Linked DNA regions of Homo sapiens. The protein of the gene in region 1 purifies or fractionates together with the protein of each later gene. This does not show direct contact. Each region holds a gene or a part of one and is shown in the gene's direction. Other genes may lie near its edges.

Region 1 (3,654 bases):
CTAAAATTTGGTCTATATGTTTTATAAAAGAAATGGGACAGACATCTTGGGAGGAATAAACCTTCCCTTCTCCTGAGTATAGTAGATTTGGATGACATTTGTCCTTTTAGATCACTAGGGTATTATTTAGTCATTAACTATTATTTAGCATTATGAATGATAAGATGGCTATTATGCCATTTAACAATTGTCTGTATATTAAGATGATAATCAAACTCACTGACAGTGCTTTCTAGTAGATTGGAGAGGTATCTGAAGTGCATATTACAAAAAAAATTTTATGCACAGCTGTCATCCTTCCATTAAGGATTATACATATCTGATTTTAGGTAGTTTACATTTATGGATGGATATTACCCCTTTAGAATAAAATTTTCTTATTGTGAGAATATAATATTCTTCTGGCGTCTAATTTTAGGAATATAATAAGTCACATTCTATAATTTTACTCACAATGGAGCAAAGATTAAGAGACATAAAATGATTTTACCCACCCTGCATGAAAATGCCCCTGGTTTATATACTTAATTCAAAAGAGCACCATACAGATAACCTACCAATTACAAGGAGGTTTTCAATTGGCTTAGCTCAATAGAAATTGCAAAAGATTGAAGAACTGAGTGTGGTATGGTGGAAGAGAGCACAGGCCTGGTTCCAGAGGTGCCTGAGTCGTGAACTCTGGTCCTGCCACTCAAAGGCTGGGTAAGAGGTAAATTGTTTAACTTCCCGGAGGCTTTGTCTTATTCCACTCTGAGGAATTACAAGGAGTAAAAGAGATGGAACAGAGTTGCTGGCACAACATATGCATTAATAAATGTCTGTCCCTTTACCTGCTACAAGATCCTTCCAATGGCGTGTACCTCCCCATAGGGTGTACCTCATATTATGAGAACAATCTGACTCAGAAACAGGGTGCCTAGTCATTGATTCCATTTTTTGTGTGTGAGGAATATAAAATTAAGAACAAATGATCTGTGTACAAATGTAAGACTAGGGAAGAGAATCTAGGACAAGCACCCAAAGGTGCAGAACTCAGATTTTAAATAGAAGTAATAATCATGTTTTCTTCCCCAATGTTTATTGTTTTGTGCAAGTGTACTTGTACCATGAGCATGTGGATTTGTGAAATGTGCACACACACAACTTGTAGAAACCTTGGGAGAATTCACTGATGGGCTGTGAAAAGGGCTACAACAGCTACCTCTTTGATTTAAGAGGCAAGAGGGTTTTGAGCACTTCTCCGCTGATGTGCATTTGGCGATCTCTCTGGGCTTCGTGGCCTACCCCTCTCAGGAATGACTGATGGATGGCTATAGCACTGGGCGGATATGCTTCAGGGCACCTCTTCAGAGTTTTTTTTTTTTTTTTTTTTTTTTTTTTTTGAGACGTAGTCTCGCTCTGTCGCCCAGGTTGGAGTGCAGTGGCACGATCTCGGCTCACTGCAACCTCCGCCTCCTGGGTTCAAGCGATTCTCCTGCCTCAGCCTCCTGAGTAGCTGGGATTACAAGTGCCTGCCACCATGCCCAGCTAACTTTTGTATTTTTAGAAGAGACAGGGTTTCAGCCTGTTGGCCAGGCTGGTCATGAACTCCTGACCCCAAGTGATCAGCCCGCCTCAGTTTTCAGAGTTGAATGCCCTCCTGGCTCTGAAGTTTTATAAAAGCCCCTTCAATGATGTTGATAAGCCTGAAAAATTTCTGGCTGTTCCATTATTGAGCTTTAAAAAAGCTTAATATGCTAGTAATACTCATACATAAATGACCTTGTCTCCACTGGTGCTGACCTTAGCCATCCAGCCCTTCCTTCTGGGAGTAGCCTTTCTCTGTCTCAGACATCTGCTCTGGGATCCTCCCACTGCCCATGTTGACATTCCCTGTCTCTCTTGCTTCCCAGCTCTTGCTCTAACTCCCCATACCTGCCAATATGCTTTTCCCTTTGGTTTCACTATTCTTGGTATTTTGGCTGAGACACACCAGCTCTATTAGTGTCAGGTTTGCAGAGCCCTCAGCCGCTGGGCTGCCTTCAACAGCCCTCCCCTTCTTCTCCACAAGAAAAAGGTAGAGGATGACCCCTCTCCCTTAACCCCTATCATCCTATTTCTTAGACTTTTTAGAAGTGCATTACAATATCTTTCCTAACTAGCCCAAATCAATTGTTAGATTTTAGTGGTGATAATTAGAATCACAGTCATATTTTCTACAGTGTTTTTTAAATACTCCCCTATATTTGTTATCTATTGCTGCATAACAAATTACCACAAAGCTAGTGGCTTAAAAAAACACTTATCTGTCATTCCACAGCTCTGTAGGTCAGGAGTTTGCTGGCTGCAATCAAGGTGTCAGCTATGGCTGGGCTTTCATCTGAAGGCTTGAGTGGGGCAGATCCACTACTGAGCTCATGGGCATTGACAGGATTCAGACTCTTGCAGGCTGATGGACTGAGGGCCTCAATTTCTTACTGGCTTTAGCTAGAGGCTACCCTCAATTTCCTTCTATGTGAACCTCCCAGTATGGCCTCTTGCTTCATCAAAGCCAGCAAGGGAGAAAGTCTGCTAGTAATAGAATCATGCAAGTGACATTCCATCACCTTTGCTGTATTCTCTTGGCTAGTAGCAAGTCATAGGTTCCTTCTTAACTCAAAAGGAAGGGATTAAACAAGGATGTGAGTACTAGGAGATGAGGATAATCATAAACCATCTTAGAGTCTGTCTGCTATACTCCCCATGAAACTTTTATATCTACTTCTTCAATTAGATTTTTATTTGGAGTATTACATTTCCTCTTTAAGACTTTAGATATCATTGGGATGGTGTACTAGTCAGGGTTCTCCAGAGGGACAGAGCCAATAGGATATATCTATAAAAATGGATTTATTAGGGGAGAATTGGCTAACACGATCACAAAGGTAAAGTCCCAGCATAGGTCATGAGCAAGCTGCAGAACCAGAGAAGCCAGTGGCATGGCTGTCAGAGAGCCTGGTAGCATGGCTCAGTCCAATTCCGAAAGCCTCAAAACTGGGGAAGCCAACAGTACAGCTCCCAGTCTGAGGTCAAAAGACTGAGAGCCTCTAGGAGCTTGCTGGTACAAGTCCAACAATCCAAAAGCTGAAGAACCTGGAGTCTCACGTCCAAGGGCAGGAGGAGAAAGTCCTGCTCTGGCAGGGAGAGACAGAGCAGAGGGTGGATCCCCCATCTTTTCCCACACTCCTTCTTTGTCCTCGTGGGGCCACCAGCCAACTGGATGGTGCCTATCCATATTGAGGGTTGGTCTGCTTCTCTTAGGCCACTGACTCCTGCATCATTCTTCTCTGGAAACACCCTCACAGACACATCCAGAAACACTGCTCACCAGCCATCTAGGCATCCTTCAATCCAGTCAAGTTGACACCTACTGTTAACCATTGCAGGTGGTAAAGCCTGAAATAACTGCCTCCGTCAGAGAAGAAATTGTTCTCTTCTTTCCAACCTGAGAGCTGTTGCACTGTAGAAACAATGGCGCTGGAAGGGTAATTTTTGGTGTTTGAGCTGCTATTGGGGAAGTCCATCTGAATAAGAGGCTGCTGTGGTGAGCTCTGAAGAAGCAGAAGGCAGTATGCTTTGTGAATTTTATGCAAATGTTACAGATTTATAAAAATGAAAACACTCAAATTGTCTCAT
Region 2 (3,654 bases), on another chromosome or scaffold:
GGCAATCATCACTATAAAACATAAAAACACAATATTAAAGTTTGCCACATTGTAGCTGTTACATGATTTAAAAGTACTAACTTTCATAAAAGCATGATAACGAACTTTTTTATTTAAAAACAGATATATCATAGGGCATGATGCAGGCAGCTGGTTAAAAATTGATTCAAGAACTGGTGAGATACAATTTTCTAGAGAATTTGATAAGAAGTCAAAATATATTATCAATGGGATATACACAGCAGAGATCCTGGCTATAGATGGTAAGAAAATTTATTTTCAGTATTTTAAGAAAACTAGTACTATTATATTAAATATTATGTTATTCTAATGCTGATATTTGAGTGACTCAGACATTTTTAATGGTGTATGCAAGACTTATGGAAAGCCCTAAACACCTTAAATCAAGAATTGAAGTCAATTAAAATCATAATTTACACTGAAGCCATAGTTTATTTCATCTACTTCCAAAACTGAGTTGTATATGGCTTACAGCATAAAAGTTAAAATATAATTCATCTTCTGATTATGACTTTGTCTCTTGAGTATGGCTAATCTCACTTGTAGGGTATGTTGGGAATGTTTACTTAAAGTAAGGGCTACGTGCTCTACAAAGTTCATTTGGGGATCACCTTGTGGGAAAGCAATGTCTCCAAGAATACAATTATTTTAGATCCATTAAAACTGAACTACAGTGAGAAGCTTGTGTGAGTGTTGCTTGATTAGACATATTTCCATAGTAAGATGCTATGGACCAAGAAAGCACAGATTATTCCAAATATAAGATCCATATTAAAAGTCATAAATACAGATGCACTGACTTAACTTGTAAGCGAGCCACCTCTCACATGGGTAAATCTGTTAAGCAGTCCTCTTGGTGAGCAGCAACAGGATTTGTTTATTTATCAATAGTTAATGATTCTATGAAGCAGTGCCTAGGAAACCAGCTGCTGTAGAACCAAACAAGAGACAAAGGTCAGGAACCACGAAGGAAGGGGAAAGACAGGCGTCCAAGATACATGCCTAATGTAAGACAGATACTGTAGGTTTGCATTGAGTTTATAGCTGACCTTTCCAGTATCAAAACAAAAATAAAGATAAAGAAGCAGCATAAAATTCAAAAAGAAACCATGATAAAACCAAACCAACTATCATCTGTACATCCTGGGCTTCATCCTGTGGCGGGTAAATTTTAACGCCTGGGTCAGTTTTATAAATAACATTGTCTTATTCATTATCAGTATTCTGGAAGCTCTAATTTGAAAATGGATTCTAACCATGTTGATTGCACCCTATGTTTGCATATTGGTCATATGTGAAAAATCTTCAAATGCTAGAATAAATAATTAGTCATTCCAAGCAAATAAAGAGAGAGAAAGTGCTGTCAAAATGTACCAAGAGAAACCCAGAAACAAAGCTGATTGTTTATTCACCTAAGCAGAGTGTCTGCACTGGCACAGAGCTATCTGAATGGTTGGAATAAGTTTGCTTCAGCACACACCATCATCAGGTGAAGAGACAGACCTCTATGCAGAGCAAACTTTACTGGGAAGCAAACACTATAAGCAATAGCTTGAGCTTTGGTTGCCAATCACAAGGTAATAGAAGAGCTACCAAAGATCAAAGAATGACAAATAAAACAATCTGTGGAATAATCTGATGCCTCTCGAATGAGAAGCTAAGTGAAATCGACATCCTTCATCTAGTAAAAACAAGTCCAATGCTGAATAGGGTATATAAACATATTATACAAAATCATATAGACTATAGGTAGGCTCTCAGTTTATTCTCATTCAGTTACCTCAATGACTACTACTTAGGCACACAGAAAACATCTGTAAAAGGAATTTATTGCTTTCTCAGAAAAGGACCTAGTAAGGTACCCCAGAGACGACAACGTTCTAGTTTAAAAGCGAGAAAGCTAAGATTCTTTTCAAGTTAAAAAGAAGCAAAAAAAATTCCGTATTCGCTGTAACAGAACATAGAGTAGAAAAGTGGACTAAAAAGCTCCTGGACTCCTAATCTTTAGTCTTTGGCCCTTTCTGATTAATTATACTATCCAAAAACTTGTTTCAAGTGGATTAGGGAAAAATCTAATAGACTTATATTTGTTTTCAGAAATGCCATTTCAGAAAGAAATAGCATGTAACAGATGCAATTAAAATAAACAGTGAGCACACAAGAAAAACACAAACAAGTATTTATTTCAGCTGTGGTTATTTCTACAAACACAGGACTCAGTGAGCATCCTGAATGGAGGTTCATAACTGACCTGGGGGTCTAATTTATGGGAACAGGGTGAGATTAGAAACCAGTAAACCTTCTCGGAGGAAGAACATTTGATTTTGCGCCTTAGGATGTGTCAGAATTAGCAAAATGAAATGAGGGTGGAAAACATTTTAGGAAGGGTGAAAAGAATGTGCCAGAGTCCAGAGTAAAAAAGAAACTTGTTTAAAGAACTCAAAAGAAGCAGTGTGGCTGGAAGGTAGCACACAAAGGGAAGAGTGACTTTGGGTCACTGAAGCGGGCAGGAACCTGTCAAGCCTCCCAAGTCACGTATATGTTTCCTACAAGTTCCATGGCATCATCAGGGGATATGAGAAAGAGTTTTCTCCCTAACACCATTTACCTCAACACCAATGACCCTTACTCTTTCAGATGGCTCTGGAAAAACAGCTACAGGAACCATATGTATTGAGGTTCCTGATATCAATGATTATTGTCCAAACATTTTTCCTGAAAGAAGAACCATCTGCATTGACTCTCCATCAGTCCTTATCTCTGTTAATGAACATTCTTATGGGTCTCCGTTTACTTTCTGTGTTGTTGATGAGCCACCAGGAATAGCTGACATGTGGGATGTCAGATCAACAAATGGTAAGTGAAACGTAAGCTTGTTTTTTGGACTTTAAGTCCAAAAGCAAAACAATTACCAAAAAATGTGGCAAGTCACTTAATAAAACATTCTACTTCTGTTTCCACAGTTCTTGCCATATTAACATTAAATGAAAAAAATATTTCATGTACACAGAGGATATTTGATAAAATTTTGAACTGAAATGAAATGAGTCAAAATGTTTCATTAATATTTAATTTACAAATAGTAGTGGATAAATACCAGTTTACCCATCATTTTGAGTAGGTAAAACGTTGAACCAATATTTATTCAGTTTAAAATAAACAGAACCCTTAACAAACTCATAAATTAAGAATGTCACAATTCCCTATTCTGAATAAATTCAGACAAATCACATAAATGTCTCTGAAACTCATATATCCCATAGATACATTTAAACATTTACTACTCACTTAGGAGCACATAAAATCAATTAAATTGTTTTTTACAGTAACTATGAGTTCAGACTTATTTTTAAGGGTAAAAATTTAAATCCAAATTGCTCAGTATTAGAGGAATGATTAAACAGAGTACATATTATTAAGATGTGTTAATATACAGCCATTAAAATTAGAATTATGCAAAGTATGTAGATACAAAAGAATGCATAAACCAAAGAAAGTAAAGTGAAAAACAGATCACGAAGTTGTATATGTATGTATCTTGACTATAACTACATACAATTGAATGGCTGACATCGATAAAAATTAAGAATAAATTTCAGATAACATAACATTTTATCTACCTTGCGTTCTTTT
Region 3 (4,208 bases), on another chromosome or scaffold:
TTATTGATGACAAACCATAACCTTGGCCTGCTAGAAGAGTTCAATGGCACAAATTTAGTTTTTTTTGTTTTAGACGGAGTCTCGCTCTGTCTCCCAGGCTGGAGTGCAGTGGCACAATCTGGGCTCACTGCAAGCTCCACCTCCCAGGTTCACGCCATTCTCCTGCCTCAGCCTCCCGAGTAGCTGGGACTACAGGTGCCCATCACCACGCCCAGCTAATTTTTTTGTATTTTTAGTAGACACGGGGTTTCACCGTGTTAGCCAGGATGGTCTCGAACTCCTGACCTTGTGATCCGCCTGCCTCGGCCTCCCAAAGTGCTGGGATTACAGGTGTGAGCCACAGCACCCGGCCCACAAATTTAGTTTTTTAAAGTAAGTAACTTTGTCTTAAAAATGATTTGTAGTAATAGTCATTAAAAGATAAACTGAGGCACATTAAAATATTAAAGCATTTATTTGACCATTCAGTGATTCATGAATCTGGTAGCTCCTGATAAAGGAGCCAAGGAGAAGGCTTTTATAGGGTGAATTTGGAAGCAAAGGAAAGATATTTGATTGGTTAAAGTGGAGTACTAGACTTATTTGGGTCATCCCAGTGGAAAGTCCCCAGTTAGAAGTTAGCTGGCAGTTTCTGATTGATTAAGCTTAAATTTCCTTTTTATCATTTACACTGATTTGGGTTTCCTTTCCTTAGGTAGGAACTCATGGAGCTGAAGCTACCTCAGCCTACTGGCCTTCTAATTATTTCAACACAGAAATAGTACTTTACGGCACACTGGAGTTGCAATTCTATTCTGCAATTGGGTGGTTTCAGATTTGTTCTTCCTATAAATTTTGGTCAAATTAGTCATTGCATTTCTTTCTATAAGTCTGAGATTCAGATATTTGGTTGCTCTGAGAAAGTCTCTGTTGAGATAGCATTGCCATACTGGTCAGATTGAAAGTGACTTTGTATCCTTTCTATTAATGTTCTGATATGAAAGAGTGATGACTCGGATATAGTGTTAATGCATTAAAAAAGCACAGCCTGACAAATCGCTTCCTATAATACACAGAAAAATGTCTAGTCTTGAATTTATAACACAGGGAAAGGTAAAAAATTTAATTATGCTTCCTAATGTTGAACATGCACGTGACAAAGTAAATACTAAAAATCCATTCAGCTGGGCGTGGACAGGGAGAGGGAACGGTGCACATCAGAGGGTGCAGGCTACTCCAACGTTTCCGTTTCCTCAGTCTCGCGGGAAGCTCCGTTGTGGGCGCCCCGGCTGGTGGCTGAGCTCAGGCCTTCAGGCAGAGGGGAGGCGAGGGCGGGGCGGTCACGTGAGAGCACTGCCGCGGTGGGTTGTGGGGGTGCTGCGGCGCCGTTTGCTTTGCCAAACCGACAAAAGAGAGATGATGGCCAACGACGCCAAGCCCGACGTGAAGACCGTGCAGGTGCTGCGGGACACAGCCAACCGCCTGCGGATCCATTCCATCAGGGCCACGTGTGCCTCTGGTTCTGGCCAGCTCACGTCGTGCTGCAGTGCAGCGGAGGTCGTGTCTGTCCTCTTCTTCCACACGATGAAGTATAAACAGACAGACCCAGAACACCCGGACAACGACCGGTTCATCCTCTCCAGGGGACATGCTGCTCCTATCCTCTATGCTGCTTGGGTGGAGGTGGGTGACATCAGTGAATCTGACTTGCTGAACCTGAGGAAACTTCACAGCGACTTGGAGAGACACCCTACCCCCCGATTGCCGTTTGTTGACGTGGCAACAGGGTCCCTAGGTCAGGGATTAGGTACTGCATGTGGAATGGCTTATACTGGCAAGTACCTTGACAAGGCCAGCTACCGGGTGTTCTGCCTTATGGGAGATGGCGAATCCTCAGAAGGCTCTGTGTGGGAGGCTTTTGCTTTTGCCTCCCACTACAACTTGGACAATCTCGTGGCGGTCTTCGACGTGAACCGCTTGGGACAAAGTGGCCCTGCACCCCTTGAGCATGGCGCAGACATCTACCAGAATTGCTGTGAAGCCTTTGGATGGAATACTTACTTAGTGGATGGCCATGATGTGGAGGCCTTGTGCCAAGCATTTTGGCAAGCAAGTCAAGTGAAGAACAAGCCTACTGCTATAGTTGCCAAGACCTTCAAAGGTCGGGGTATTCCAAATATTGAGGATGCAGAAAATTGGCATGGAAAGCCAGTGCCAAAAGAAAGAGCAGATGCAATTGTCAAATTAATTGAGAGTCAGATACAGACCAATGAGAATCTCATACCAAAATCGCCTGTGGAAGACTCACCTCAAATAAGCATCACAGATATAAAAATGACCTCCCCACCTGCTTACAAAGTTGGTGACAAGATAGCTACTCAGAAAACATATGGTTTGGCTCTGGCTAAACTGGGCCGTGCAAATGAAAGAGTTATTGTTCTGAGTGGTGACACGATGAACTCCACCTTTTCTGAGATATTCAGGAAAGAACACCCTGAGCGTTTCATAGAGTGTATTATTGCTGAACAAAACATGGTAAGTGTGGCACTAGGCTGTGCTACACGTGGTCGAACCATTGCTTTTGCTGGTGCTTTTGCTGCCTTTTTTACTAGAGCATTCGATCAGCTCCGAATGGGAGCCATTTCTCAAGCCAATATCAACCTTATTGGTTCCCACTGTGGGGTATCCACTGGAGAAGATGGAGTCTCCCAGATGGCCCTGGAGGATCTAGCCATGTTCCGAAGCATTCCCAATTGTACTGTTTTCTATCCAAGTGATGCCATCTCGACAGAGCATGCTATTTATCTAGCCGCCAATACCAAGGGAATGTGCTTCATTCGAACCAGCCAACCAGAAACTGCAGTTATTTATACCCCACAAGAAAATTTTGAGATTGGCCAGGCCAAGGTGGTCCGCCACGGTGTCAATGATAAAGTCACAGTAATTGGAGCTGGAGTTACTCTCCATGAAGCCTTAGAAGCTGCTGACCATCTTTCTCAACAAGGTATTTCTGTCCGTGTCATCGACCCATTTACCATTAAACCCCTGGATGCCGCCACCATCATCTCCAGTGCAAAAGCCACAGGCGGCCGAGTTATCACAGTGGAGGATCACTACAGGGAAGGTGGCATTGGAGAAGCTGTTTGTGCAGCTGTCTCCAGGGAGCCTGATATCCTTGTTCATCAACTGGCAGTGTCAGGAGTGCCTCAACGTGGGAAAACTAGTGAATTGCTGGATATGTTTGGAATCAGTACCAGACACATTATAGCAGCCGTAACACTTACTTTAATGAAGTAAACTAGGCTTATTTCTAAAAAGTCAAGTCTATTGGCTTTGGCCCAAAAGCACTGGTATCTTTGTATTAAATTCATGTTTATTGTCACAAAACCATTATTTATACCTATACAGTTGTACTGTTTCTTTTAAAGCAAAGCCATTTAACATCTTTCTTCATTCCTAATTTGGAAATTAAAGTTTACCTTTCTGTTAATCTATGTATAAATGTTACTCTGAGTTATTAATGTGGATTTTAAAATTGTAAGCAATAGAATAGGAAATAAAACAACTACCTAATACAAATATTTCTGATAAGACTACAAATATCTGACTGAGCTGGGGATTAAAGTAGAGGTAACTGTATCTTAAATGAGTATGATTTCCTTGTAAGTTAAAAAAATTGAAATTTAATTGTAGACTTCAATAGTCCAAGTTTTGAAGGATGTTTGAGCTTTTGTATAATGCCATTTATACCTGCAGTTTTACAGATAATGTTTGACTGCAGTTGCCTTGGAAATTCCTCCAAAGTTTGCCTTCATCTCTCCTCTACAGTTTGGAGGTGATGGTGCAGCAGTGGAACATCTCTTGATGCACCACACTACTTGTGTTCTGTGAAGTGATGAAAGTATAACTGGTTCTAGTTTGCACACTACACACATAGTTTTGTGAAGCTTCAGAAATGTTTTTTCTTTTCCTTGTGGCCAAACCAGTTTGTTAATCTGATTATATTCATCTGCTAATGATACTAAAGTTAATGTAATAAAGCATTTAAAAATCAGATACTTCAGTCTGTGCTGTGTATGTGGGATTTGATTTCTTCCTGATGAAATCCTAAATAAGGAGAACTTGTGTCTAAATAAGAAACAGAGAGAGTCATGACCCCCAGAAGCAAACCTGGAAAAAGGTTGAAGCTGGAGATAAGTTACTAGAGAAGATTGTATGGACTAAAAAGC

The links.
Region 2: the proteins of SYT16 (region 1) and DSG4 purify together in Homo sapiens (affinity purification with mass spectrometry; 2 studies listed by BioGRID and IntAct, with this or other methods). This does not show direct contact.
Region 3: the proteins of SYT16 (region 1) and TKTL2 purify together in Homo sapiens (co-immunoprecipitation; one large-scale study listed by IntAct). This does not show direct contact.

What each region holds. Positions count from the first base shown.
Region 1 is NC_000014.9:61,819,118-61,822,771, forward strand, and holds part of SYT16 (synaptotagmin-16), read left to right. Parts: intron 1-3,654. UniProt on the Homo sapiens protein: May be involved in the trafficking and exocytosis of secretory vesicles in non-neuronal tissues. Is Ca(2+)-independent.
Region 2 is NC_000018.10:31,400,758-31,404,411, forward strand, and holds part of DSG4 (desmoglein-4 isoform 2 preproprotein), read left to right. Parts: intron 1-123; coding exon 124-263; intron 264-2,658; coding exon 2,659-2,877; intron 2,878-3,654.
Region 3 is NC_000004.12:163,470,922-163,475,129, reverse strand, and holds TKTL2 (transketolase-like protein 2), read left to right. Parts: upstream 1-1,375; 5' UTR 1,376-1,395; coding exon 1,396-3,276; 3' UTR 3,277-4,035; downstream 4,036-4,208. UniProt on the Homo sapiens protein: Plays an essential role in total transketolase activity and cell proliferation in cancer cells; after transfection with anti-TKTL1 siRNA, total transketolase activity dramatically decreases and proliferation was significantly inhibited in cancer cells.